4 linked regions of the Homo sapiens genome follow. The protein of the gene in region 1 purifies or fractionates together with the protein of each later gene. This does not show direct contact. Each region holds a gene or a part of one and is shown in the gene's direction. Other genes may lie near its edges. The genes, in order: ATXN2, EDC4, PABPC4 and LSM12.

The links.
Region 2: the proteins of ATXN2 (region 1) and EDC4 purify together in Homo sapiens (affinity purification with mass spectrometry; 2 studies listed by BioGRID and IntAct, with this or other methods). This does not show direct contact.
Region 3: the proteins of ATXN2 (region 1) and PABPC4 purify together in Homo sapiens (affinity purification with mass spectrometry; 4 studies listed by BioGRID and IntAct, with this or other methods). This does not show direct contact.
Region 4: the proteins of ATXN2 (region 1) and LSM12 purify together in Homo sapiens (affinity purification with mass spectrometry; 4 studies listed by BioGRID and IntAct, with this or other methods). This does not show direct contact.

Annotation. Positions count from the first base shown.
Region 1 is NC_000012.12:111,596,295-111,603,775, reverse strand, and holds the start of ATXN2 (ataxin-2), read left to right. Parts: upstream 1-4,460; 5' UTR 4,461-4,741; coding exon 4,742-4,992; intron 4,993-7,481. UniProt on the Homo sapiens protein: Involved in EGFR trafficking, acting as negative regulator of endocytic EGFR internalization at the plasma membrane.
Region 2 is NC_000016.10:67,869,127-67,876,062, forward strand, and holds the start of EDC4 (enhancer of mRNA-decapping protein 4), read left to right. Parts: upstream 1-3,925; 5' UTR 3,926-4,135; coding exon 4,136-4,217; intron 4,218-6,818; coding exon 6,819-6,936. Other genes in the region: NUTF2 (nuclear transport factor 2), read left to right, coding at 1,674-1,787. UniProt on the Homo sapiens protein: In the process of mRNA degradation, seems to play a role in mRNA decapping. Component of a complex containing DCP2 and DCP1A which functions in decapping of ARE-containing mRNAs. Promotes complex formation between DCP1A and DCP2.
Region 3 is NC_000001.11:39,573,780-39,581,141, reverse strand, and holds the start of PABPC4 (polyadenylate-binding protein 4), read left to right. Parts: upstream 1-4,351; 5' UTR 4,352-5,190; coding exon 5,191-5,383; intron 5,384-7,362.
Region 4 is NC_000017.11:44,056,658-44,063,679, reverse strand, and holds part of LSM12 (protein LSM12), read left to right. Parts: intron 1-7,022. UniProt on the Homo sapiens protein: Nicotinic acid adenine dinucleotide phosphate (NAADP) binding protein. Confers NAADP sensitivity to the two pore channel complex (TPCs) by acting as TPC accessory protein necessary for NAADP-evoked Ca(2+) release.

The DNA of each region.
Region 1 (7,481 bases):
ACCACACCCACCTATTTTTTTGTATTTTTAGTAGAGACGGGGTTTCACTGTGTTAGCCAGGATGGCCTTGATCTCCTGACCTCGTGATCTGCCCGCCTTGGCCTCCCAAAGTGCTGGGATTACAGGTGTGAGCCACCATGCCTGGCTAATTTTTGTATTTTTAATAGAGACAGGGTTTCACCATGTTGGCAAGGATGGTCTCGATCTCTTGACCTCAGGTGATCAGCCCACCTCAGTCTCCCAAAGTGCTGGGATTACAGGCATGAGCCACCGTGCCCAGCCTACTCTGATATTTTCATATAAAGCTTAAGCCTTCTGAAGTCCAGAGAAAAGGTAGTTTCCATAAATAAATAAATAAAATAAAAATAACTAAATAAACTTACCACATCACCCAACAATTTCGTTTGTAGGAACCAACCCAAGATAAATGAAAACATATATCCACATGAAGATATATGTTCACAAATGTTCATAGCAGCATTATTATTTTTCTTTCTTCTTCTTTGTGTGTGTGTGTGTGTGTTTTAGCAACTCTATTAACTGAACGAGACAGGGTCTTGGTCTGTTGCCCAGGCTAGAGTGCAGTGGCGCATTCGTAGCTCACAGCAACCTCGATCTCCTGGGCTCAAGCGGTCCTTCTGCTTCAGCCTCCCTAGTAGCTGGGACTATAGGTGCGTGTCACCATGACCAGCTAATTTTTTTTTTTTTTTTTTTTTGGAGACAGAGTATTGCTGTGTCACCCAGGCTTCAGTGCAATGGTGCAATCTCGGCTCACTGTAACCTCCGCCTCCTGGGTTCAAGCAATTCTCCTGCCTCAGCCTCCCAAGTAGCTGAGATTACAGGTGCCCGCCACCACGCCTGGCTAATTTTTTGTATTTTTAGTAGAGACGGGATTTCACCATGTAGGCCAGGCTGGTCTCGAACTCCTGATCTCAGGTGATCCACCCACCTCGGCCTCCCAAAGTGCTGGGATTATAGGCATGAGCCACCACGCCCAGCCAACCAGCTAATTTTTTATTTTTAAAGTTTTTCATAGAGACAGGGTCTCTCTATGTTGCCCAGGCTGGTTTCAAACTCCGGGGTATTCAAGTGATCCTCCCATCTCGGTATCCTAAAGTGTTGGGATTACAGGAGTGAGCCACCAATCTCAGCCCCAGCAGCATTTTCATAATACTCAAAAAGTTGACACAATCTAAACATCCACAATTGGAAAGTAGACACAAAATGTGGTATGTCCATACATGGAATATGACATAGCAATAATAAGGAATGAAATACTGCTACATGCCACAACCTTAGATAAACCTCAAAAACATTATGACAAATGAAAGAAGGCAGACACAAAAGGCTGCATGCTGTAAGATTCTACTTATGTGAAAAATCTGGACAAATCCATAGAGAGAAAATGTAGATGAGTGGTTGCCTGGGGCTAAGGATGGGAACCAAACTGCCCACCATCGTGAAGGATCTTTTTGGGGTAATGGAAATGTTCTGAAATTAGTGGCAATGGTTGTGCAAATTTACTGTGTAAATTTACTGAGAATCATTAAATTGTACACAAAATAGGTGAATTTCATAGTATGTAAATTATATCTTGATAAAACTATTAAGTTTTTATTCAATGGTAGTGAGTTAAAACAAACTTTCTCAGCTATGTCAGCTTCAGGCCTTCTTTTTTTTTAATTTTGAAAAATTTTTTATGGAGAGGAGGGTCTCACTATGTTGCCCAGGCTGGTCTCCTACTCCTTGGTTCAAAGGATCTGCCTGCCTTGGCCTTCCAAAGTGCTGGGATTATAGGTGTAGGCCACTGTATCCAGCCTAGGCCTTCTTATTCAACTTCCATCGACCTGAAACTTACTATTTTTTTTTTGAGACGGAGTCTCGCTCTGTCGCCCAGGCTGGAGTGCAGTGGTGTGATCTCCGCTCACTGCAAGCACCGCCTCCCAGGTTCACACCATTCTCCTGCCTCAGCCTCCCAAGTAGCTGGGACTACAGGTGCGCATCACCACACCCAGCTAATTTTTGTATTTTTAGTAGAGATGGGCTCTACTAAAAATTGGCCAGGCTGGTCTCGAACTCCTGACCTCAGGTGATCCACCGGCCACTGCCTCCCAAAGTGCTGGGATTACAGGCGTGAGCCACCACACTGGCCAAAACTTGTTCTTAAGATTGTATTCTGGGACCTTGATTCCAATCAGAGAAAAGTGATTGTATTTTTTTATTTTTATTTTTTTTAGATAAAGTTTCGCTCTTGTTGCCCAGGCTGGAGTGCAGTGGTGCCCTCTTTGGTCACTGTAACCTCCGCCTCCTGGGTTCAAGCGATTCTCCTGCCTCAGCATCCTGCGTAGCTGAGATCACAGATGCCCACCACCACGCCCAGCTAATTTTTTCGTATTTTTAGTAGCGATGGGGTTTCACCATGTTGGCCACGCTGGTCTTGAACTCCTGACCTCAGGTGATCCATCCGCCTCGGCCTCCCAGAGTGCTGGGATTACAGGTGTGAGCCACCGCGCCAGGCCAAGTGTTTGTATTTCTATTAAAGAAAGAATATAACGGGACACCATTGACGACCTGCTCCATTGCAGGCCTCCTTGCTGTTCCTCAGACTCCCCCCTCAGAGCCTTTGCCCTCGCTGTGCCCTCCACCTGGAGCGTTTCTCCCCAGGATCCTCATGCCCATGCTCATTTGGGTCCCTGCCCCATGTCACCCTCTCCAGGAGCTTCCCCTCACAGCAGCCCTGGCCTGTACCACAGCCGGGTACAGGTATTTTTTTGTTTCAACTGGTTTTTTAGTTCCAGTTTCCTTTAGGTTACTTTATTTATTTATTTATTTATTTATTTTTTGAGACGGAGTCTCGCTCTGTCGCCCAGGCTGGAGTGCATGATCTCGGCTGACTGCAACCTCCACCTCCCGGATTCAAGCAATTCTCCTGTATCAGCCTCCCGAGTAGCTGGGATTACAGGCGCCCACCACCACACCCGGCTAATTTTTATATTTTTGGTAGAGACGGGGTTTCACCATGTTGGCTAGGCTAGGTTAATTTTTAAAGGGTTTTGCAATGGTCCCTTGATCTACTTTTTACCTTAGATGGGAAATAAAACTGATTTCCTACATTGGCAGAATACAATGATCATTTTTGCCTGGACTATCTAGGAGGTTAATTTCAGTTGGACTACTGAAAACTGCTGGTTCAATCATTCTCCACGTTTATCTAAGTCTTTACCTTTATCTGGACAGTTCTAGGACATTGAGGGGAATTTTGGTGTTTCTTCCCCTATTATTTCCTGAAGTCATTTCACTTTAAAAAACAATAGATTCACTGCTCAAAAAAAAAAAAAAAAGTTACCTACTTTCTACTTGCTTCCAGTTTAACTGCAACACATTTTAAAAAGAGTCTACTGTGCTGGCTGGGTAAGTTAAATTAAAACTTCTAAAGGGTCCAAGGTCTAAAGTTCGCACATTGTTTTGAGGTCGGCTCTGTCTCTACCGAGGGAGATCCCATTATCCGTAGTTCTACCAGTCCCAATCCCATATATTTCCTTTAGAATCTCATGAATGAGGAAAAAGAAGTTCAAGTGAGGGAACATAGGTTCAAATGAAGGTCAGATACCTAAAAGAGTTTTCTGGTGACTGTGCGCGGCTGGGGTGGAAAAAGTGGGGAAAAGGTACCCAGATGTGGGTGGCCCCGGAGGGTTGCTCCACTCCAGCCCCGGCAGGGCAGGACAGCGCGGCCTGCCTGGTAGATGCCCCGAGCCACTGGAGCGCCTACTGTGTGGCGGGCGGGGGACGGCAGGAAAACGGCAGGATGCTGTGTCCCCTGAATCTGGCAGGGTTCTAGGTGCTTTACACGTAGCAAGACACATTCTCCGCCCCAAGGCACTCGCAGTCAGTCCATTTTCTGGGTTGCATCAGGTGGGGGCAAACTAGGTCCCCGCAGAAGTGAAGATGCTGAAGGAATACAGTAGGAGAAGAAATGCTTCTCTCCTGTCCTCCACACCAGGCAGGCCCCAGAGGCTGAGACCGACACGCCCTCCCCGAAGGGCAGACCCGCCTTGAGGAAGGCGGATCCGGGTAGGGACCGCCGCCTGGCCCTCACCCGACCCCCGAGAAAGCAACCCAGCGCGCCGCCCGCTCCTCACGTGTCCCTCCCGGCCCCGGGGCCACCTCACGTTCTGCTTCCGTCTGACCCCTCCGACTTCCGGTAAAGAGTCCCTATCCGCACCTCCGCTCCCACCCGGCGCCTCGGCGCGCCCGCCCTCCGATGCGCTCAGCGGCCGCAGCTCCTCGGAGTCCCGCGGTGGCCACCGAGTCTCGCCGCTTCGCCGCAGCCAGGTGGCCCGGGTGGCGCTCGCTCCAGCGGCCGGCGCGGCGGAGCGGGCGGGGCGGCGGTGGCGCGGCCCCGGGACCGTATCCCTCCGCCGCCCCTCCCCCGCCCGGCCCCGGCCCCCCTCCCTCCCGGCAGAGCTCGCCTCCCTCCGCCTCAGACTGTTTTGGTAGCAACGGCAACGGCGGCGGCGCGTTTCGGCCCGGCTCCCGGCGGCTCCTTGGTCTCGGCGGGCCTCCCCGCCCCTTCGTCGTCCTCCTTCTCCCCCTCGCCAGCCCGGGCGCCCCTCCGGCCGCGCCAACCCGCGCCTCCCCGCTCGGCGCCCGCGCGTCCCCGCCGCGTTCCGGCGTCTCCTTGGCGCGCCCGGCTCCCGGCTGTCCCCGCCCGGCGTGCGAGCCGGTGTATGGGCCCCTCACCATGTCGCTGAAGCCCCAGCAGCAGCAGCAGCAGCAGCAGCAGCAGCAGCAGCAGCAACAGCAGCAGCAGCAGCAGCAGCAGCAGCCGCCGCCCGCGGCTGCCAATGTCCGCAAGCCCGGCGGCAGCGGCCTTCTAGCGTCGCCCGCCGCCGCGCCTTCGCCGTCCTCGTCCTCGGTCTCCTCGTCCTCGGCCACGGCTCCCTCCTCGGTGGTCGCGGCGACCTCCGGCGGCGGGAGGCCCGGCCTGGGCAGGTGGGTGTCGGCACCCCAGCCCCCTCCGCTCCGGGCCCGGCGTCCCCTCCCCCGCGGCCCGCGCCGCCGTCCCCGCCCCGTGACCCGCCGGGCTACCCGGGGTGGGCTGGGGGCCGGCAGCGCGGGGGAGACTCGCTCGGGCCTGAGCCCCGAGGCTCGGCCGGTGGGCGCAGCCGGGGTCCTCTGGGATTGTCAGGCCTGTCCAGCCTCCCGCAGCATCCCCGCCCCCTCCCCCGGCGGTCAAGATGGAGGGAGCGGGCGGCCTCCCCTCCCCACGCGTGTTGGGAGGGGTTCTCGGGTAGCGGCGATGGTCAGCCCCGGCTCCCCCTTCCGCACGATCCTCCGCCCGCAGCGTGGGGATGCTCGGGCAGCTCCTCCACTCCCGGTTTAGGTGTGAACGTTGGAGGGGTCTGGAGGCTGTGGTGGCGTTTTCCGGAACATGTCCCCCTCCATGGGGGACATCTCTGGAGGGGAGAAGTTAGGGCCGCGTCCCCCGTGCCGGTTAAAGGGGTAGGCACCGGGCTCCTCCGGAATCATCAGGGTCTGTCGGGGCTCTCTCCCCGCCCCCTCCGAGTCCTGGGAAAGATCGGAGGACGGGGTGGAGACAAGTGGGCCTTGGCCCCCGCACCCCTCTGCGTTCGTGTCCGAGGCGGCGGCGGGGGCTCCCGAACTCCCCTGAAATCGTGGGGCTCCATGTGGCCTCCGGCAGCGTTCCACCCTCCCCCACCTGGGGAAGGGAAGGGGTGGGGAGTGCCCGGCCCCGTCCCGGCCTTCCTCCTTCCCCCGCCAGACCTCTCCGGCGCGCGGGTGGTGGCCGATCCGCATTGCTGTTCGAGGCCGCAGTGGAGAAGGCGCCTGTGGAACATCGGTGGGTGAGGGCTGGACCCAGGCTGGACCCTGGAGATCCGGGGTGGCGGTGCTGGTGGCAGGGGGCGGGCACCCTGCGCACTTATCCCAACCCCCGCCCCAATTTCGGAAATGCTAGGAGAGAGAGATTGCAGCAGGGGACGTGGTCGGGTTCCTGAAGGCAGAAAGGCGGGTGTTTACTAGCGTCTTTTTCCCTCCTAAGCCGGGGTTGTAGTAGGGGCTGGGGGCTCAGTGTTGTCCCGGCTAACTGGGTTTGACTCGAGGGTGTGTTTGTGCAGGAGGGCCTGTTGGGGGTGGCGGGCGGTTGTCAGTTCGTATTTCACGAACTAAGAAAATGCTTAGTGTTCAAAGGGAGAAGGAAACGTCAATAGACTCCATTCCATTGTGGCCGGTGTCCTTAACTTCGGGAGTGCCGCCAGAGCTTACCAAGGGCACGCAAGTCCATTTCCCTTGTGCCTCAAGTCCATCCGTGTTGTAGGCACTACTGTGCCTTCTTTAGGCCTAGGCCGCCGGCTTGACGGCGGGTGACCGGCGTCCTCCTTAAATAGGCATCTTGGGCTTTGGAAGGTGGAATAAGAGGATTTTTCATTCACCCGAGTTTTCTTTTTGAAAACACATTTTCAGCAACCCATTTCCAAAGAATTTTTATTTACAGCAGAAATTCCCCATCAAGAGGAATCAGCTGGTTTTTAAGGAATTCTGCTGCCTTCAAAGGGGGCGGAAACAGTCGGTTATTTGACTTTACACGCCCCGCCCCCCCTTCCCCTTCTCTGAGTCTGAAGCATCCCAAACACTACTTAGCCAAACTAGTTCAGATGAAGTGATCGTTTCCCCAAGTAGGGTAACTTCAGTTTCCCTTTTTCGTTGGCATCTAGCGAAAAATGAAAAAATTTAAAATACAACTTTTATAGAAAAGGATGTATTCTGTTTTTACTTTCTTAGGTATTAGGAAGAGATTTGGCAGATAATTCAACATGTTCAAATATATAAACATTAAAACTAAGGTTATTAAGTTGCATTGACTACTAGGCTTAAAAATTAGATTATAAGAGAATTTGCTCCTGAGTAGTTTGAGTGATCAAAGATATTTGGAATGTTTTAGTACCACAAGGTCTTTTTTCTGTTCCTTGAGGCTTTACAACAATTTAAGGTTAATTTAGATTTTTCCTTGCTTTAAGTTCTTTTACTTGAGACCTAAATGGCAGCCCTTATTCTTTCTGATGAATAGGTGAAATTTTGTTTACTGTGTTGGATTTGTGTAATGTGAAGTTTTATTCTTGAACAGATCGTTAATGTACTTGTAGAATTACTTTGAATTTGAATCACTTTCCTGCATTCCTTGTAAATAAGTTTCAGCTTCTAGAATCTCCTCACTTAGGTTTGTGCGTATCAACAGTGAAAATAAGTCTCTGAGAGCAAGGGTGAAAAAAAATGCAGCATTCGGTTTGACAAGTTTCGAGATAGCAAAATATGCTTGAAAGTCTGGAAATTCACATCTGCTTTAAGAAACATTTCATAATTTGACTTTGTGTGTGTGTGTGTGAATAGTTTTTCATGACTTTCAGAAGTGATTTATTTTGTTCTTTGTTATATATATTTTTGAAGGTGGCTGTTTTAGGAAA
Region 2 (6,936 bases), on another chromosome or scaffold:
TAGGCTGGAATGCAGTGGCACAATCTCAGCTCACTACACTTCTGCCTTCCGAGTTCAAGCAATTCTCCAGCCTCAGCTTCCCAAGTAGCTGGGATTACAGCTGCCCGCCACCACACCCAGATAATTTTTTGTATTTTTAGTAGAGACAGGGTTTCACTATGTTGGCCAGGCTGGTCTTGAACTCCTGACCTCAGGTGATCCACCTGCCTCGGCCTCCCAAAGTGCTGGGATTATAGGCGTGAGCCACCTATTTCTCTTTGCATTTTCCTTCCTCCTTCTCAAGACCTATTATTCTCAGAGACTTCCTGTGGTCCCTCAGACCCCCCAAGAACTCTCCAAGGACCTGTTGTGCTTCAGCATATTAAAGTCAGATTCTGGGCTGGGCGCGGTGGCTCACGCCTGTAATCCCAGCACTTTGGGAGGCCGAGGCAGGCAGATTACCTGAGGTCAGGAGTTTGAGACCAGCCTGACCAACATGGAGAAACCCTGTCTCTACTAAAAATACAAAATTAGCCAGGCATGGTGGCACATGCCTGTAATCCCATCTACACGGGAGGCTGCGGCAGGAGAATCGCTTGAACCTGGGAGGCAGAGGTTGCGGTGAGCTGAGATTGCACCATTGCACTCTAGCCTGGGCAACAAGAGTGAAACTCTGTCTCTAAATAAATAAATAAAGCCAGATTCTGTTTACAAAAACACCCTTCTTCCCAAAAATAGCAGGACAAATTGGCTGCCCCTCGGCCTGGGCTTGTGTCTTACAATAACATGGTCACATGCTCTCTTTCTCTAGGCTAGCCGGGACAGGGCTTCCTGAGTCCAGAGTGGGTGTGTAGGTGGTCCTGTGGGCCTCTGCAGTGGACGCAGAGGCACCTGCTTTCTGGCCTGGACTTTCCTGTCAGTTTCTCCTGCCTGTTCAGGATGTCCTGCTCAGTGCCTGTGCCTGAAGAGGCACAGAATTCAGGAGGTCTCTGTAGGGAGCTCATTGTTCACTTTCTCAGGCAAAGGTAGTAAACACTGCTGCTTCCCACCGGCTTCAGGTTCTTCCTGGTGATTCTGTCCAATTTGGAGCTCCCAAACAACTGATTTGCCTCCTTGATGACGATAATTCCCAGAAAGCAGGTGATGTTAGAGACAGTGCTGGTTAGCTAGGCTCCTATTTCAACTAGGTCTCATCCTAGTTTTCTGCAGTTTGGCTGCAGGTTTCTTGCCCTTTTTTTTCATCTCAAATACTGTTTATTACATGACAGGAAACATCATTGGATAGTGAACCTATGTTTTCAAGATTGTTTGCAGTTTTTTTGATACTCTATAAGTTACTTGGTAAATACTATGGGATTCGTTTCAAAATTGTGATCACTTGTGTCTGGAGATATGTGCTTGGAGGCAGGTACATCCTCTGCTCTTTTGCTGTAGCTAAGGGTGAATTATTGTGCAGTTTAAGCACACATAGCACACATAGGCGTGGCTGATTGTTGGCCTACATGTGCCCAGGGCATTGTTTCATACATTACATCAATTCACATTCACAAGTACCCCTTGGCTACACTGGGATTTGAGTTCAGGACAGTAGGGCCTGATCCTAAAGTCAACATTTTTTTGCCCTCTTCTCCTACCACTGAATTCCCTTCCTGTTTCTTGATCCCCTTACTGAATCCTCTTTTCTCTCCTCATAGGCGGATGAAGACCCCATCATGGGGTTCCACCAGATGTTCCTATTAAAGAACATCAACGATGCTTGGGTTTGCACCAATGACATGTTCAGGCTCGCCCTGCACAACTTTGGCTGACCTCCTCTCAGCTAGGCACTCACGCTGTTTCCTCCTCCCTCCTCTTCCCAATACTATTCCCACTCCTCCAGATGCTCCAAATATCATGCACAAATGAGCAGGGCCGCGGTGGGAGTGGGCGCAGTGCGCTGCTGCCACTGAGGTGTTGTGCATGATGTTTGGATGCTAGACTAGTTGCATCTGACGGGAGAAGTTTGTGTTGTACCAGCGCATGCCTTGGAAAGACTTAAGTAATGCAAAAGGTTGTCCTTTTTTTTTTTTTTTTTTTTTTAATCTACTGACAAGTTGCTCTAGTAACCCAAAGAAGTGAAGGAGAAAGCAGCTGCCTCACCGCCCAGACATTGATTTGTTCAGATGTTTCAATGCCTCATGATACAATAAAACCACAAAAATTTTCTTAACAGTTTAAATTGTTTTAATTAGTTTACTAGTTGGCTGGGCATCAGAAGCTACCCAGACCCGTTGTCTCTCTCATGTTTCACCCTCCCACTTCTGCCCCAACTCTGAATACCTGTTGCAGGGAGAAACTGCTGAAGCAGCACTCCCAGCTAGCCTCTCAGAAGCCGTGTAGGGCAGTTCTCTCCCACTCCACAGGGCGACTGGTCTTTGGAAAGCAGGCAGGAAGAGCTCAGGTCTGGCCTGAAGCTTCTCTCACTGAAGCCTGTGCAGTCAGTTCTGATACCTCCTGTGACTTCTGCTCTGGGTAGGTTCAGGGCCCTAGTAGCAGGAGAGATGATCCTGAATCCTGTTGAAGCTGGAGAGGCCTTGGCAAAATGGCTCATCACGTTCAGGCCCTCCGGGCTGAGTTGTCAGCAGTATCAAGGGAGGGGCCTGCTCTATCCCCAGAAGGATCAGGATCATATCCAGGATGCCCCACATACACCAAGCCAGGCAGAGGGCAGCTCAGCTCCTGTCCCATCTGCTTTGGATATCTTTACCCAAAGGCAGGTAACCCGAAGAGCCAGCCTCCACTGCCCACAGAGCCAGGCCCAGTTGTGTTGGAGTATAGGTCAGGAGCTGTGGAAGGAGGCAGTCTGTGAGGGACTCATGCTTTAGGAGTCCTCACCCCTCAGACTGCTGCAGGACATTGCCAGGCCTCTCTCCACTTCCTTCCTCAGCATACAGACTTCATGCTATCTTCCAATTCCGGGGAGTCTTAGCTATTAGGGCAGTTTCTGCTTCTCCATTTTGGGGACAAAGGCCTTGCCCAGTACAAATCTAGCCCCTTGTCCCACAGACTTCTGGATGGTATAAACCTAGTGGCAATGTAGCAACCATAGGCTAGAACCAAACCCAAGATTTGGGTCAGTGCCCTGTTAAGGGTTTTAGGATTGGTAAGGACACCACAGCTAAATCTGACATGTAAAAGGATACCCTTCCCCTGTCCCACTACGGGTGGAGGCTAAGGACCTCCTCAGATCCCACAGATTGCCTGGTGACATTGGGCACAGGGCTGGATGGTGTGCTGTTTGAGAGGACAGCATGCTCAGGAGATTTCAGTGGGAATGATCTCTAGGCTGATGTGTATTTGGGGAAGTGGGGGTGGGGAAGAGGTAGGTGCCTGCTGCCTCAAACCACCTTGTGTAAAATCTGCAATACGGCTTCTTCCATGTACCTGTGCCTGAACTGTCTGCAATAAAGAAGAATTTGTAAACTGTGGTTTCTTTCTTCCAACCTGAGGGTGCCAGGTGGGACAAGGGGATGCTGGGGGACAGTAGGGAACAATGACTGGTCATTGTAGTGGGATCATCTCCCCTGCTCTTGCAATTCCTGAGTTTTATGACCTCGAGGGTAGCCTCAGGCCTTGAGTTATTCCGACCCATTCCCAAAGGGAACCTGAGGCACCTGCCAATTCAGCATATTCTGGGGGTCTGAGGGACCTTAGCATGGGCGGCTAAGTTGACCCCGTCCCAGGACCATCGGAGTCCATGCTCTGGGAGTGGGCAGGGACCTGGCGCCTTCTGAGTCGAGTAGGGCTTTAGGTGGCCCAGTGCGTGGACGCTTACTTCAGCCCCGTGGGACTTTCCTGACCTCGCGGACACAGGGGCGGGGCCGCCGAGGGGGACTGGCTGCGGGAGGGGTTTAGGCTTCCGCCCCCAGCCCGGAACCTTTCTTCTCCGGCCCTGGCAGGTTCCGGGAGCCTCGGCTCGTGGGTGCCGGAAGTGGAGGCGGTTGGTGGGGTTGGCGGGGCTCAGCGACGCTGCGCGGGTGGCGGTTTGCGAACTGCGGGTGGACTGTGTAGTGACCGGCGTCCCGCTGTCTCGCCCCGTGGCGGGTGAGCGAGGGTGCGTGGTGCGCGGCGGCGGCGGAACGAACGCGGTGCGGGCGGGGCGCCCGCCGCAGGGCCCATGGCCTCCTGCGCGAGCATCGACATCGAGGACGCCACGCAGCACCTGCGGGACATCCTCAAGCTGGACCGGCCCGCGGGCGGTGAGCGGGGGTTGCGGGGGTGGGCCCCAGGCGAGCTGACAAAAGGGCGGCGCGCGTCTGAACCGCCATTGGGGCCCACAGCTCCCTTAGGACTAGCTCTGGATCCTCCCGGCGGGTAAGGGTGGACGGGGATTGACTGTGCCCCTCGAAGGGCGCAGACCCCTGGGTGTGACCCCTCCCTATCTTGTCCTCAGGCTGTTCTGCCTTGTCCTTCAGCGTCTCGGTTGAAGGTGAGGCGCCTTCTCTGAATCCGCTGGGGCCCTCTGGTTTCCTGGCCCCGAGGTCTCTAGTGTTCCTGGGACTGGCCTAGCTCCTCTTCCCTTTCTCCATGGTTCAGAGGCCTGGTCTGGGCTCCGTATATGGAATTCTGGGCCCAGGCTTAAGCGCGATGCTGAAGAGCTGCCGGTCCCCCTCCATAACTTGCCCTTCTCTCTGGAATAAAGACTCCAGGCCTCCCGTTCTGAAACTGATTTCCAGGAGGAAGGTGTCCAGTCTCAATTCCGTGTTCTTTCTGGGATGAAGGCAAATCACAGACCGCACCACCCTGACTGAATTATGCTACAAATATCTGCAAGCCCTAATTGGTTCCCATTCATTCATATTTCGCTTTGGCTCTTAATGATACCTCAGAACTAGTCTTGCCCCCAAAGATTCCCCAAGACACAGCTAACAGGGTTGTAATATACTGTTGTCATTGAAAGAAAGGAGTGTCTCGATACTGTGATGGGCGTGGGAAGGGTGGAGGCTGGTGAGTGCAGAGTGCAGGTCTGAGAGGGGAGACTGGGCTAGGTCTTGTAATGTGAACAGGGGCTTGGGTGTCAGGAAAGGCACCCAAGGCACCTATGGAGAAGCCACCTATTAGGAAGAGGAAATAGCACGTGTGCAGGCACTAGTTTACTGACAGGTTTAGGGATCTCTGAAGTGGCCGGTGATGATGGTGTGGGCGTACAGTGGAGAATTGTGTTTCCTCAGATCTTGTTCTTACACCTGCTGGGAGGCCCAGACTGGCTGCTTCTGGAAGCAGGCACTGGTGCTCACTAGGGGTGGATTCAACTAACCCCTACTTTCAGAAAATCCATCTGCTGCCTGAGACCACTCGGCCCTTTGTCCCAGGCCTGGAGTGTGTGCCCTCTTTACTCATGAGTTGGGCGTGGACCTCTCCTGCTGCTCAGCTGCTTTGTAGACTAGACTCCGCAGAGATTTGGTAGAGCCTGGCATGGCCAACCATGTACAGCCTGAGCCTGCTTTTTGGTTGTCCTCATGGTACCCTTCATGGAAGGGAGAGTTGTCAGCTTGTCCCTGAGCAGCTAAAGTGGCTCTGATCTGAATGAAGTGGCCTGGAGGCTTTCCTTATAACTACTTTGTTTATTGATTGGCACTTGATTCCCTTGTTTGCCAAGCAGCTCTTTCTTGTCTCCTCTCACTGGACGACCAGGTCAGAACTCAGACTATTGAGGACTGGGCGCGGTGGCTCACACCTGTAATCCCAGCACTTTGGGAGGCCGAGGTGGGTGGATTGCTTGAGGCCAGGAGTTCGAGACCAGCCTGGCCAACATGGTTTCTTAACATGGTGAAACCTTATCTCTACTAAAAATATAAAAATTAGGTGAGCTGTAATCCCAGCTACTTGGGAGGCTGATGCAGGAGAATCCCTTGAACCCAGGGGGTAGAGGTTGCCATGAGCCGAGATCGCGCCAAAATAATTCAAAGACTGTTGTGACTGGAAACTTGCTATGTTCTGAATGTGGAGCCCTAGGCTCCTTGCCACCTGGGGATTTTGGAAATGGTGTCTGAGCCTATGAGAGTGTTTGAAACCCAGCCAGTTGCAAAGAACTGAAATGCTGTCTTTCCTTACTCCACACGCTGCCCCATAGTTTCTCTCCTTTTGGTCCAGCTCCTTTATGTCCCTGCCTTCTGTGTTTACTTGCCCAAGATAGCTTCTTCTGAGCCATTTCTGTGTGGGGCAGCCCCTTCCACATCTTACCAGTGCCCTTCCATGCCTTAGGAGCCCATCTTCTCTCCAAACTCTGACACTACATTGGTCTAGGCCTTGATCTCTCTCACCCAGATTCTCAACCATTCTGCATGCTATCTTAGAGTAATCTTCCCACTGGCCAGAACTGACCACATCACCTTCCCTTTTGAAACTCTTTATGGTTCTCATGGCCCACAGGGAGAGTCTAAGTGCCACGGCATCATACCTGATGCCTCTGTAGCTTTGTTTTCACTCCATCCTTCCTGTGTTTGTGTGTTCTGGTCACACTAACTGCTGTATAAAGTCTTTCCTGACCCCTCCTATGCCCTCACTCAGTCCACAGAGTTCTTCTGTAGTGACCCAGACCTGAGTATTCACTGCCCTCAAAGGGTCCTTGATGGCTTGTACCCCTCCCCCAGGTAGAAGAGCCTCATGCTCATCCTTGGTCCTGCCTACATCAGTGTTTATGGAACGAGAGATGAACACAGGGCCCTCCTCCTCATGGACATGCTTTGCTCAGTTGAGTGTTCCTAGAGCACCTCATAGTTCTTGAAGGAAACTCTGAAAGGGGAGAGGCTTGTGGGCAGGTCGAGCAACCTTATCAGAATGACCCTCTTTGTCCCCAGGCCCCAGTGCAGAGAGCCCACGGCCATCCAGTGCCTACAATGGGGACCTCAATGGACTTCTGGTCCCAGACCCGCTCTGCTCAGGTGATAGTACCTCAGCAAACAAGACTGGTCTTCG
Region 3 (7,362 bases), on another chromosome or scaffold:
TAATCCCAACACTTTGGGAGACTGAGGTGGGGGCGGATTGCCTGAGCTCAGGAGTTCGCAACCAGGCTGGGCAACATTGTGAAAACCTGTCTCTACTAAAATACAAAAAATTAGCCCAGTGTGGCGATGTATGCCTGTAGTCCCAGCTACTAGGGAGGCTGAGGCAGGAGAATCGCTTGAACCTGAGAGGCAGAGGTTGCAGTGAGCTGAGATCGCACCACTGCATTCCAGCCTGGGCGACAAAGTGAGACATCTCAAAAAAAAAATTAATCCAAACAATTTATGTGTATTTATATGTATTCATTTATTCTCACAATAACCCTTTTAATTGTTAATAAGGTTTATTAGTATAGTTCAGATGAGAAATTTGAGGGTCAGAGATGTGAACTAGCTTGCCCAAAGTAATATAGGTAATAAGCTCCCCCAATAGACAATAAGCTTCAGGAGGTCAGAGCTTGTGTGGGTTTTGCTCATCTGTGCCTAGTATTCATTTGTTTATTTAACAAATATTTAGGCCAGGTGCAGTGGTTTATGCCTGTAATCCCAACACTTTAAGAAGCCAAAGTGGATCGCTTGAGGTCAGGAGTTTGAGGCTGCAGTGAGCTATGATCAGGCCACTGCACTCCAGCCTGGGCAACACAGTGAGACTTTGTTGCTTAAAAAAAAATACATGCAGTGGCTCATGCCTGTAATCCCAGCACTTTGGGAGGCCAAGGTGGGCGGATCACGAGGTCAGGAGATCAAGACCATCCTGGCTAGCACAGTGAAACCCCATCTTTACTAAAAAATACAAAAAATTAGCCGGGCGTGGTAGTGGGCACCTGTGGTCCCAGCTACTCGGGAGGCTGAGGCAGGAGAATGGCGTGAACCCGGGAGGCAGAGCTTGCAGTGAGCCAAGATCGCGCCACTGCACTCCAGCCTGGGCAACAGAGCGAGACCCAGTCTCAAAAAAAACAAAAAAACAAAAAAAAAAATACACAGGCTGGGTGTGTGGCTCACGCCTGTAATCCCAGCACTTGGGGAAGCCGAGACGAATACATCACCTGAGGTCAGCAGTCGGAGACCAGCCTGGGCAACATGGTGAAATCCCATCTCTACTGAAAATACAAAAAGTAGCTGGGCATAGTGGTGGGTGCCTGTAATTCCAGCTACTTGGGAGGCTGAGGCAGGAGAATCACTTGAATCCGGGAGGTGGCGGTTGCAGTGAGCCGACATCACGCCACTGCACTCCAGCCTGGGTGACAGAGCAAGTCTCTGTCTCAAAAAAAAAAAAAAAAAAAAAAAGGCTGGGCGTGGTGGCTCACCCCTGTAATCCCAGCACTTTGGGAGGCCGAGGCGGGCAGATTACAAGGTCAAGAGATTGAGACCATCCTGGCCAACATGGTGAAACCCCATCTCTACTAAAAATACAAAAATTAGCCAGGTGTGGTGGCACGCACCTGTAGTCCCAGCTACTCGGGAGGCTGAGGCAGGAGAATTGCTTGAATCCGGGAGGCGGAAGTTGCAGTGAGCCTAGATCGCAGTACTGCACTCCAGCCTGCCAATAGAGCGAGAGTTGGTTTCAAAAAAAAAAATAGCCAGGTGTGGTGGCGCATGCCTGCAATCCCAGCTACTTGGGAGGCTGAGGCATGAGAATTGCTTGAACCTGGGAGGCAGAGGTTGCAGTGAGCCGAGACTGCACCACTGCACTCCAGCCTCGGTGACAGAGGAAGATTTCATACCCCCCCCACAAAAAAAACAAGAAAACACACACACACACACACACACACACACACACACACACAAACATATATTGAATATTTATTTATCTATTTATTTTTTAGTAACAGAGTCTCACTCTGTTGCTCAGCCTGGAGTGCAGCGACATGATCATAGCTCACTACAGCCTTCAACTCCTGGCCTCAAGCGATCCTCCTACCTCAGACTCCCAAGTAGCTGAGACCACAGGCATGTGTCCCCACACCCAGCCAATTAAAAGAAAATTTTTTTTTGTAGAGATAGGGTCTCACTCTGTTGCCCAGGCTGGTTTCAAATGTCTGGGCTCAAGCGATCCTCCTGCCTCAGCCTCCCAAAGCACTGAGAGTATAGGTGTGAGCCACCTGCCTGGCCAGTTACTGAACATTTAGTACGTGCTATGTTAAGCACTATTCTAGATTCCTGTTCTCATGAAGCTTATATACCAATGTGGAAAAGATAGATACTAAACAGGTAAACAGATATAGAACAACATAATTTTGGGTAGGAATAACAGGCTTGAAGACAAGAAGACAAGTTGGTGTGATAGTGATTAACAATGTTGACGGCTACTTTAGACCACAGGAGGTCTAGGAAGACTTTCCTGAGGAGGGAATCTATAGAAGGAGCACTCCCATAAATGTTCCTTTTTTTTTGAGACGGAGTCTCGCTCTGTCACCCAGGCTGGAGTGCAGTAGCATGATCTCAGCTTACTGCAACCGCTGCCTCCTGGGTTCCAGCGATTCTCCTGCCTCAGCCTTCCAAGTAGCTGGGACTATAGGCACGTGCCATCATGCCCGGCTAATTTTGTATTTTTAGTAGAGATGGGGTTTCACCATGTTGGCCAGGCTGGTCTCGAACTCCTGACCTCAGGTGATCCGCTCACCTCAGCCTGCCAAAGTGCTGGGATTACAGGTGTGAGCCATCGTGCCCAGCCAATGTTTCTTGATTTAATATAGTTATTAGAATATAAACTCCATGAGAGAGGGAGTGACTTCTGGTCCACCATGGTATCTCCAGCCCCTGTATTGACATTGGCATAGAGTAGGCTCAGATTAACCATTTATTTGAATTAATTAATATATAAATACACATATTTCTTTAGTCATTTACTTAAATCAGTGCTTTTGAAGGGGGATGTCTGTGTCTTTTGGCAATTTCTGTTTTTGGTTTTCACAGTGATGGCAAAGGTGGTTCCTGGCACTTATGGAAGAAGGGATGCTATATATCTTGTAATGCGTGTGGACAGTCCCATATAACATAGTCCTATAAAGTGATATGACTTTTTTTTTTTTGAGACGGAGTTTCGCTCTTGTTGCCCAGGCTAGAGTGCAATGGCATGATCTCAGCTCACCACAACCTCTGCCTGCCGGGTTCAAGCGATTCTTCTGCTTTAGCCGCCTGAGTAGCTGGGATTACAGGCATGCACCCCCATGTCTGGCTACTTTTTGTATTTTTAGGAGAGACGGGGGTTTCTTCATGTTGGTCATGCTGGTCTCGAACTCTCGACCTCAGTGATCCGCCCGCCTCGGCCTCCCAAAGTGCTGGGATTACAGGCGTGAGCCACCACGCCTGGCCTGTGATACGACTTTCAAATGACCTGCCAGACTCTCATGCAGATGAAAAGTCTTTTTATAATTATCCAAGCCTAGAAGAAACTTTAAACATAGGAACAGAAAGTATTTCTGTGCCCTTAAACACAAACTAAATGTCCGGGAATGCCACCAGCATGTCAATAGAGGGGATGCTTGTGTTTGGTTTCATTGAAGCTTTACCAAAATGTGCTCATCTTTTCAGAAAATCCCATCACCCATGGATACTGCTTGCATTTCTAGTTCCTGACGATTCTACCTCTAGGTCAACGGTATCCTGAAAACTTCTCAAATCTTTATTGTATTTGGACCCAGACATTTACCTATTGGACCACCTATTATTTTATTTTAACTTATTTTATGTCACCTTCATTTCACAATTTGGCATACCATTTAATTTTTTTTTTTTTGAGAGGGAGTCTCACTCTGTTGCCCAGGCTGGATGGAGTGCAGTGGCACGATCTTGGCTCACCGCGACCTCCGCCTCCCGGGTTCAAGCTATTCTCCTGCTCAGCCTCCCGAGTAGCTAGGACTACAGGCGCATGCCACCACGCCCGGCTAATGTTTTGTATTTTTAGTAGAGACGGGGTTTCACCGCGTTAGCCAGGATGGTCTCGATCTCCTGACCTCCATGATCCATCCGCCTCGGCCTCCCAAAGTGCTGGGATTACAGGCGTGAGCCACTGCACCCAGCCCCATACCATTTAATTTTAAACCTCATGCGTGTGTGCAGGTTAAATGGCTCCTAGGTTCCATTCCCGGGTGATGGGTGGGAGGGTGTTAAGATTTATTTGTTATAGAAAGGGGCCCTGGGGTCTCCCGCAGCCGCGAGCTGGGCGGTCCTCCCGGCGCCAGGGGTCGCTGTAGCGCCGCGCGGCCGCGCCGGGTCGCTCTCGCGTGGCCGCCCCGCCTCGGGCCCCCGGGCCGAGTGGGCGGGCACGACTGCGCCCAGGTCGCGAGGCGCCCTTCGACCAGCAGCGCCCGGGGCGGGCGGGTATAAATGGAGCGGTGGCTCCCTCGGCCGCCTCTCTCCGCCCCGGGTCGCTGCCGCCTCCGCCGCTTTCGGGCTTCGCAGCCTGAGGAAAAAAAGAGAAAAAGATAAAAAAAATCTGAAAACGCTTCAAAATCCTGAAAAAAAAAAAGGAAAAGAAAAAACGAATCCTCGGAGAACCCGCGGGGAAGTCACTTTCGTACGCTTCCGGCCTGCCCCGCGCCCGCCGCCGCAGCGCTTGGCGTCCGTCGGTCTCCGTCCGTCGGTCCGGGGGTGAGCCGCCCGCCCGGCCCGCCGTGCCCTCCCCCCGCTCGGGCCCCGAGCCCCGCGCCCCGCGCCTGCCCCGGCGCACCACGTGTCCGTGCTGCCCTTCGCCGCCCGCCCGGGGCTCGCCGAGTCGGCGCCCACAAAGATTTGGTTTCCCTCTGCCCCGGCGGTTGTAATCTTAAACCGCCGGAGCCCGAGGCCTATATTTATAGAGAAACGCGTGTCCCCGAGGCCGCCGTGGGCAGCGTCCGGTCGCCTCTTAAAGGATTTTTACCCTTCGGAAGGGGATTCCCCGTTTAATTTTTTTCCTACTTTGATTTTTTGAAATTTGGAGCTTCGCACCAGGACCGCGGAGAAGTGCAAAGTCGCGGGGAGGGCCGTATTGTGCGGAGAGCCTTTTGTCTGCGGTGCTGCGGCCGTGGGAGCCGGCCCCCGCCTCCCGTTTCCGTCCCGTCTCCAAGCCCGCCGACTCCAGCTCGTCCTCGCCGCGCCGGTGCCACCTGTGAGCCGCGGCGCGGGCCCGGGCTCCGAAGGCGCCCCTTTGTCCTGCGGCGGGCCCGATAAGAAGTCCTCCTGGCGGGGCTCGGGGTGGTGGGGGGCGGGGAGATGAACGCTGCGGCCAGCAGCTACCCCATGGCCTCCCTGTACGTGGGCGACCTGCATTCGGACGTCACCGAGGCCATGCTGTACGAAAAGTTCAGCCCCGCGGGGCCTGTGCTGTCCATCCGGGTCTGCCGCGATATGATCACCCGCCGCTCCCTGGGCTATGCCTACGTCAACTTCCAGCAGCCGGCCGACGGTGAGTAGAAGCTGTGCCCACACGTGCGTGGGAGCCCGGAGGACCCCGGGAGTCGTCTTCTGGCAGGGCCCTCCTGCCGAGGAGGGCGGCATCACGACAGCATGTTGCCACCGAAGCTGGGAGCAGGGTGCGGAGATTGAGAACGCGGACCTGGCATCAGATGACTCGAGTTTCAATCTTGTTTCTACCACTTGCTAACTGGGTGACCTTGGGCTACTTATTAGTGTTGCTGGTAGTGGGGTTGGAAACCAAGGAGACTGTAAAACAGGATTAGAGTGAAGCCACTGGCATTCCACTGCGTGTGGTCCTTGTCAGTGGGGCTGGGCTGTTAGAGATCCTTGCTTGTGCCCCTCACAGGCTGGCCAAAAAGGCGGGACGTTTGAAACACAATTCCCCGCGAAAGTTTTACATTGTAAAGCTCCTGCCCGCTCCGCCACCTTTACTAACCTTGACTACCTGATGTTGTGCTGATAAAGGATCAGTCAGGGCAGGCAGGAAGCAGGGGGAAGGTTTCTGTGCGTTAAACTTTCGCAGAGACTTAGGTTAGTGCCACAAAAGCTGCGTGTGCCAGGCCACCTCCTTGGTCTGTGTGTTTGCCACTGGAGTGGAGAAGTGCTTTACTCTGGACAAATGGTATCCAGGCTCTGTGCTGTAGAGTGTCGTGGAGGTAGTTTAGGGAAGCGTCACTTGAAAATCTGGTGTCATTTGTCACCTCAGCTGTAACAGTGCTTTGCACTAGTCAGAGCCCTTTTATTTCATCTAATCTGAAGAAAATGGGACTCCTGAGAAGGAGAACGAATGCAAAAAGTTGGAAGCCAAGTTAGGACTCCCAGCACAGTGCTCTGCCACCTCAGATTGTGGCCTTAGCGTGGAGCATGGAGAGAGGTATGCTGCAGGCGTGGCAGGAGGGAGGCCAGAGGAAACCTGATCAGAGGCTGCACGTGACTCCAGATTAAAAGGGAACAACTGCAGAGATCATTACTGGGAGAAACAAGCCATTCTATGGCAAAGCATCTCCAGGTCCCTAGTTTTGGGGTCCCCCCTTTGTTTTCTGTCTGAGGCCCAGAGTTACTACCTGCCCAGGTTGCGGCTGAGACCAGAGAATTGGACATGTTGAGAGGGACTAGGTATTGCTACTGTCAATCCAGTGTGCTCCAAGCTGAGTTCTGTCCATGGCCATAGGAGCGCAAAGGTAGCTGAGTGTGGTCTTTTTAAGGGATAATGTACCACATTAGCTGTTGTCTGCCTTACTGACTTTTGAACAAAAGTCGTGTCACTTAGAGATAGCAGAAGCTATTGGTCAGTGTGTCTGCCAACACATACTTCTGCAGGACTTCTCCCTGCTATAAATAAGTGCAGCCAGATTTGTCAGACTAAGCCGGCTTGCCTTGTGCAGTGCTGTCTGGAAATAGACGAGGAGCTGTTGTTGAAGTGGGCTCCTTTACTGCTAATTAATGAAATAGTTTGCGATCCCAGCTATCTATCTCTGATAGCCATCACAAGCAAAGTCCTCTTTCCCTGGACTGTTCCTGACTTGGATCGGTCTTGTCATCTCCCCTTTTCCCAACTACCCCCCACACAGATGAGGCCCACCTTCTGAAGGGGGTGGGGAAAGTTGTTGGAAATAATGAGTGAAAATAAATTCTCCCGGCTAATGAAACAGTTGAGCTTGTGGAGCGGCAGAGTTGGGGAATTTTGTCCCCCCTTTAAGTGAGATGTTGTCCTGAGGCAAGGAGCAGGTTCCACTGCTCTGACCCTGTCTAAATCCCCTCATGGAGGAGGTTCTGGGTGATGTCACCGTTAGGAGATGCCATCATAGCCTTAAGGAAAAGTGGCCACCAGATCTGGGCATCCTTGTTGCGATTAGTGATGAGAAGTGTTTTGGCTGGCAGGTGGTGTTATTTTTTAGCTTTTGGTTCTTTTTGTTGTTGTTTGTTTTGAGACACTGTTTCACTCTTGCTGCCCAGGCTGGAGTGCAA
Region 4 (7,022 bases), on another chromosome or scaffold:
TGATATCTTTTTAAAAAATGTAGGTTTAGTTTTTCTCTTTATTCCTGGATGTTATCAGTAGATCTTAAGAAGTAGCTTAACTCCCAAATAAGTTGAGAGCTTGCTTCTGCCTTTATGAAAGAGGACTTTTTAAATCTTGGAGTTCATGATGAACTAATAGTGCTGCTGGGGTTTGGGTGGTGGCGTTACCTATGAATGTCTTCAAATTGTGTATATGTGGATGTGTGCATACGTGAATATATGCATTTTCTGCTTGAAGATCTAAAGTGTTTTTCAGATTCTCGGAGGGTTTCATGACTTAGAAAAGTTTGAAAGCCACTGTCTTAAAGGTTCTTTTTTGTCTTTATGTTTGAATTTTGAGTTCTAACAGTTACATGCTTAGCATATTTTAATCTTGCACATAAAAGTTGATCTCTGGGAACCCCCAAGTCACTTTTGTGTGTGTATGTGTGAGACAGGGTCTTGCTTTGTTGCCCAGGTTGAACTTGAACGCCTGGGCTCAAGTGACCCTCCTGCCTCGGCCTTCTGAGTAGCTGGGATTACATGCATGCGTCACCATGCCTGCCCAAGTCTTTCTTTTTATTGGAGCCACTGCGCCCGGCGTTTTTTTTGAGACAGAGTCTCTCTGTGTCGCCCAGGCTGGAGTGCAGTGACGCGATCTCGGCTCACTGTAACCTCCGCCTCCCAGGTTAAGTGATTCTCGTGCCTCAGCCTCTGGAGTAGTTGGGACTACAGGTGTGTGCCACGACGCCTGGCCAAATTTTTTTTTTTTTTGGAGACAGGCACACACTGTCACACCCGGCTAATTTGTTTTATTTTAGTAGAGACGGGGTTTCATTCTGTTGCCCAGGCTGGTCTTGAACTCCTGAGCTCAGGCAGTCTGCTTGCCTCGGCCTCCCAAAGTGGTAAGATTATAGGTGTGAGCCACTGCTCCTGGCTCAATTTTTGTATTATTAGTAGAGATGGGGTTTCACCATGCTGGCCAGGCTGATCTTGAACTTCTGACCTCAAGTGATCTGCCTGCCTCAGCCTCCCAAAGTGCTGGGATTACAGGTGTCAGCCACCATGCCCGGCCCTAAGTCACTTTTTTGACAATTCCGTTTATTTAGTCAAAATTGAAGTTGATCATAATAATGCCTCAAGCCCTGTCATAGCCTGTGCTGTCCCCTGTACTTGGAACATTTTTCCTTCCAGAATGACTGGAGCCTTACCACCCATCAGCACTCAGTTAAATGGCACGTCTTCCAAGAAGTCTTCTCTGATCACCCAGGCTGAAGTAATTTGCCTGCATTATTCTCTCTCATAGTACCTTGTCCTTCACAGTTAAGGTGACCATATCATTTGTAGTCCAACCTGGGACATTTTTGAGAGTAAAGGGGAATGCTTTTATTTTACACAGGGACAACAGGTATAGATTAGGTTACCCTATTCATAGCTTTTTTTTTTTTTTTTTTTTTTGAGACGGAGTCTCGCTTTGTCGCCCAGGCTGGAGTGCAGTGGCGCCATCTCAGCTCACTGCAAGCTCCGCCTCCCGGGTTCATGCCATTCTCCTGCCTCAGCCTTCCTAGTAGCTGGGACTACAGGCGCCCGACACCACGCCCGGCTAACTTTTTTGTATTTTTAGTAGAGACGGGGTTTCACTGTGTTAGCCAGGACGGTCTCGATCTCCTGACTTTGTGATCCGCCCGCCTCGGCCTCCCAAAGTGCTGGGATTACAGGCGTGAGCCACCGCTCCTGGCCATAGTTGTTTACTTGTCTAGTGTCTGTCTCACTAAACTTTATTCTGCAGGGATGGGGACCATACCTATTTTATTTACTATTGAATATACAGAGCCTTGCACAGAGTATTTAATAAATATTTGTTGGATGAATAAGATGCCTCCAATTTTAGTAGCAGGTGCTTTTCATTAAGTCTCTTGAATTAATGTGGTGGAAGTTTTTCCCTCTAGAGGAATCTTGCAATAATGTGTATTACTTTGCCTCTCTTGGGAATGTGGTGTGTTCTGTACAGTTCAGCAAAGCAAGGAAACACTTAGGCAACTAAAATAATAGAGGGTAACTGATGCTGAGGCTAGTGAATGTCGTTACCTCAGATCTGGAGTTCCTATCTTGTCAGATTCTAGGGAAATGCCACACATTTTTTAGTGATGGCCAGGGACAGATTTGGAAGGCTATTGAGTTCATATGGGTGTTGTCTTGTATGGGATGTCCCATTCTTTGAAGCTTATAGGTTTTTGAAACCTTGGCTTAGTAATATACCTTCTACCAGAGTATAGGAGCTCTTTGAGTGTCTTCTATAAGCTCATGAAATTTTAAGACTTGTTAAATAATTTATTCCTTGGTGTTTTTTTTTTTTTTTTTTGAGATGGAGTTTCGCTCTTGTTGCCCAGGCTGGAGTGCAATGGTGCAACCTCGGCTCACCGCAACCTCCGCCTCCCGGGTTCAAGTGATTCTCCTGCCTCAGCCTCCTGAGTAGCTGGGATTACAGGCATGCACAGCCACACCCAGCTAATTTTGTATTTTTAGTAGAGACGGGGTTTCTCCGTGTTGGTCAGGCTGGTCTCGAACTCCCGACCTCAGGTGATCCGCCCGCCTCAGCCTCCCAAAGTGCTGGAATTACAGGCGTGAGCCACTGTGCCCAGCATTATTCCTAGTGTATTAAAGAACCAAATAGGCTCTGAGTTATTTTTTGGTGTTTATAGGGTATGATAAGTCTGTCACTAGATCTTTAGTGAGTAGTAAAGATCTGAAAGAGAGGTGATTTTCTGAAGTTAGAAAGTTGGCTCTTGTGACCAATGAGTGCCACCATTTAGAGGGGGTGGGGTAGTGTGGATGGGACTGTTAAGCAGGAGCTGTTAAGAAGCAGTTCTCTTCTTATGTTTGACCTCAGGTAGATATAGCTCTTGGTTAGTTTGTGGATTATCTTTGCCTTTAGGGTTTTCCTTGTTTACTAGCATTGTTGTAAACTAGCTGATTACCCAGTTTTTGAGGAAAGCAGCAGGAAGTAATAGCTTGGGGAACACCAGAAATCTTTACTTTTCTTACTCTGTGGCCTGCTTGCCAAATCTTGAAAGAGGTTTGCTGGGAAGAGGAGTCAGAAACTAAAAACTAAAATTAGGTTGGAGGGTTATCTTTGGATTTCGTTTATTCATTCTTCCGTTTGCAGAGATGTTTATGAGTAAGCTATATTGGCTTTCCCTTGAAATCAACCTTTTAGGATGCTTTGCGATTCCTTTTTGGAGATTGACTTAGAATTAGAGAGAGCCTTTTGGGCTACTGCTGAAAACAGCTATTTCGGGCAGCTATTAACATGTTGCATGAATGACGTGAAAAGTTAGTCTCATTTTTAAGATCACGGACTTGAGTTTTTCTTAAGATGGAGGATCATTTAAGCATATGGAAGGGAACTAATGTACTCTGGGATGTCTGGAAGAAAACTGTTGAAGTTTCAGTTGCTTGCAGTCTGGAGAAGCACTAGCCTACTCTATTTATTTTATTTTATTTATTTATTTTTTGAGACGAAGTCTTGCTCTGTCGCCCAGGCTGGAGTGCAGTGGCGCCATCTCGGCTCACTGCAAGCTCCACCTCCCGGGTTCATGCCATTCTCCTGCCTCAGCCTCCCGAGTAGCTGGGACTACAGGCGCCCGCCACCATGTCCGGCTAATTTTTTTGTATTTTTAGTAGAGACGGGGTTTCACCATGTTGGCCAGGATGGTCTCGATCTCCTGACCTTGTGATCCGCCCGCCTCGGCCTCCCAAAGTGCTGGGATTACAGGCTTGAGCCACCACACCCGGCCTACTCTAACTTTAGTCAAAGGTATCATCACATATTGGCCCATCTTGCTGACATAGTAAGTGATCTGCTTAATTAAACCTGTTGATAAAAACCGGATATTTGTTGACTCTGACCTAGCAGGAAATGGAAGAGAAGGGCTTATACAGGAAATACTTAATAATAGCTCAACTAGGGAAGGTATAAACTAGCAACTTCTTGGAAATTGGCCTGTTTTGCTTTCGAATGATAGTTCACTTCAGGCTAAGAAGTCTTATTTCTATCTCCAGCAGTAGCATGTAAGAGGAAGCTTGAGAGAGGACAGTAGGGTTGCAGTAGGGGGAATTCTTTTTTTTGAGACAGGGTCTCAGTCCATTGCCCGGTGTGATCTCGGTTCAAGCGATTCTCCTGTCTCAGCCTCCTGAGTAGCTGGGATTACAGGCGCCTGCTGCCACCATGCCCGGCTAATTTTTCTATTTTTAGTAGAGATGGGGTTTTGCCGTGTTGACCAGGCTGGCCTTGAACTCCTGACCTCAGATAATCCACCTGCGTCGGCCTCCTAAAGTGTTAGGATTATAGGCGTGAGCCACTGCACCTGGCCAAGTCCCCTGTTTTTCTATTACTTTGTGTTTAGCCCAAGGAACTCATAGTTTGGCAACATGAAGTACCCTGAATAATGTACAATGCTAAGTTATGTTTCGTGTGTGTGTGTATGTGTGTGTGTGTGTTCTGTTTTTTAGAGATATAGTCTCATTCTGTTGACCAGGCTAGAGTGCAGTGGCATGATCATAACTCACTGCAGCTTCGAACTCCTGGCTCATAGCCTCAAGTGATCCGCCCAAGCTTCCTGAGTAGCTGGGACTACAATCTCCCATCACCACACCTGGGTGGTTGTTTTGTTTCTTTTTAGTTAGTCTCGCACTGTGCCCAGGCTGGAGTGCAAATGATGCAGTCACAGCTCACCGCAGCCTCGACCTCCAGGGTTCGCTCAAGTGATCTTTCCACCTCGCCTCCCAAGTAGCTGGGACTACCGGCACAAACCACCACACCTGGCTAATTTTTCTTTCTTTTTTGAGATGGAGTCTTGCCCTGTTGCCCAGGCTGGAGTGCGGTGGTGCCGTGATCTCGGCTCACTGCAACCTCTGCCTCCTAGGTTCAAGCAATTCTCCTGCCTCAGCCTCCTAAGTAGCTGGGATTACAGGCGTGCGCCACCATGCCTGGCTAATTTTTTGTATCTTTAGTAGAGATGGGGTTTCACCATGTTGACCAGGCTGATCTCGAACTCCTGACCTCATGATCCACCCGCCTTGGCCTCCCAAAGTGCTGGGTTTACAGGCGTGAGCCACCGCGCCCAGCCTAGTTTTTTTTTGTAGAGACAGGGTCTTACTGTGTGGCCCAGGATGGTCTGTAACTCCTGGGCTCAAGCAATCCTCCTTCCTCGGCTTCCCAAAGTATTCGAATTACAGGTATGAGCCACTGGCCCAGCCCCTAGGTAACGTTTCTAAGTAAAGAAAAACATCTATGTTCTGTGGTCAGGGGCAGGGTAGTCTAGTAGAAAAGACTTAGGAATGAACCAAGTAGATCAGTCTTTAAAGTCATTAGACTTGGCAGATGTTAGTTAATGTCTCCCAAATTATTATTATTATTATTATTATTTATTATTTTTTTTTTGAGACGGAGTCTTGCTCAGTCGCCCAGGCTGGAGTGCAGTGGCGCGATCTCGGCTCACTGCAAGCTCCGCCTCCTGGGTTCACGCCATTCTCCTGCCTCAGCCTCCCGAGTAGCTGGGACTACAGGCGCCCACCACCACGCCCAGCTAATTTTTTTGTATTTTTAGTAGAGACAGGGTTTCCCCGTGTTAGCTAGGATGGTCTCAATCTCCTGACCTCATGATCCCCCCATCTCAGCCTCCCAAAGTGCTGGGATTACAGGCGTGAGCCACTGTGCCCGGCCCAGATTTTTTTATTGTAGCTAACTAATGCTCATTGAATTATGGGATGAGATAAGGCAGGGGAAGGAGGGCATTGTGACAAAGGGCCCATAGAAGATTTATGCCATTACACTAGGCTCTCACTTAACGTCTTTGGTAGGTTCTTGGAAACTTTGACTTTATGTATTATTATTATTATTATTACTTTGTTTTTTTTTTGAGACAGAGTCTCCGTCTGTCTCCCAGGCTATAATGCAGTAGTGCTGTCTCAGCTCACTGCAACCTCTGCCTCCCAGGTTCAAGCAGTTCTCTACCTCAGCCTCCGGAGTAGCTGGGATTCCAGGCATCTGCCACCACAGCTGGCTAATTTTTGTATTTTTGGTAGAGACAGGGTTTCACCATCTTGGCCAGGGTGGTCTTGAACTCCTGACCTCATGATCCGCCCACCTCCGCCTCCCAAAGTGCTGGGATTACAGGCGTGAGCCACTGTACCTGGCACATTATTATTTATTTTTTTAAGATGAAGTCTCACCCAGGCACGGTGGCTCACGCCTGTAGTCCTAGCACTTTGAGAGGCCGAGGCGGGCGGATCACGAGGTCAGGAGATCAAGACCATCCTGGCTAACATGGTGAAACCCCGTCTCTACTAAAAACGCAAAAATTAGCTGGGCGTGGTGGCATGTGCCTGTAGTCCCAGCTACTTGGGAGGCTGAGGCAGGAGAATGGTGTGAACCCAGGAGGCGGAGCTTGCAGTGAGCTGAGATCGCGCCACTGCACTCCAGCCTGGGAGACAGAGCGAGACTCCGTCTCAAAAAAAAAAGAAAAAAAAAGTCTTACTCTGTTGCCCAGGCTGGAGTGCCATGGCTCTATCTCAGCTCACTGCAACCTCCGCCTCCTGTGCTAAAGCAGTTCTCCTGTCTCAGCCTCCCGAGTAGCTGGGAGTACAGGTGCGCCCCACCACGTCCGTCTTATTTTTTTATGTTTTTGAGACAGAGTTTCACTCTTGCTGCCCAAGCTGGAGTGCAATGGCACGATTACAGCTTACCACAACCTCTGCCTCCCGGGTTCAAGTGATTCTCCTGCCTCAGCCTCCCAAGTAGCTGGGATTACAGGCATGTGCCACCCCACCTGGCTAATTTTGTATTATTAGTAGAGAGGGTTTCTCCATGTTGGTCAGACTGTTCTTGAACTCCCGACCTCAGGTGATTTGCCTCGGCCTCCCAAAGTGCTGGGATTACAGGTGTGAGCCACTGTACCAGGCTGTATTTTTTTTTTTTCTTTTTTTGGAGAGGAGTTTTCCTTTGTCACCAAGGCTGGAGT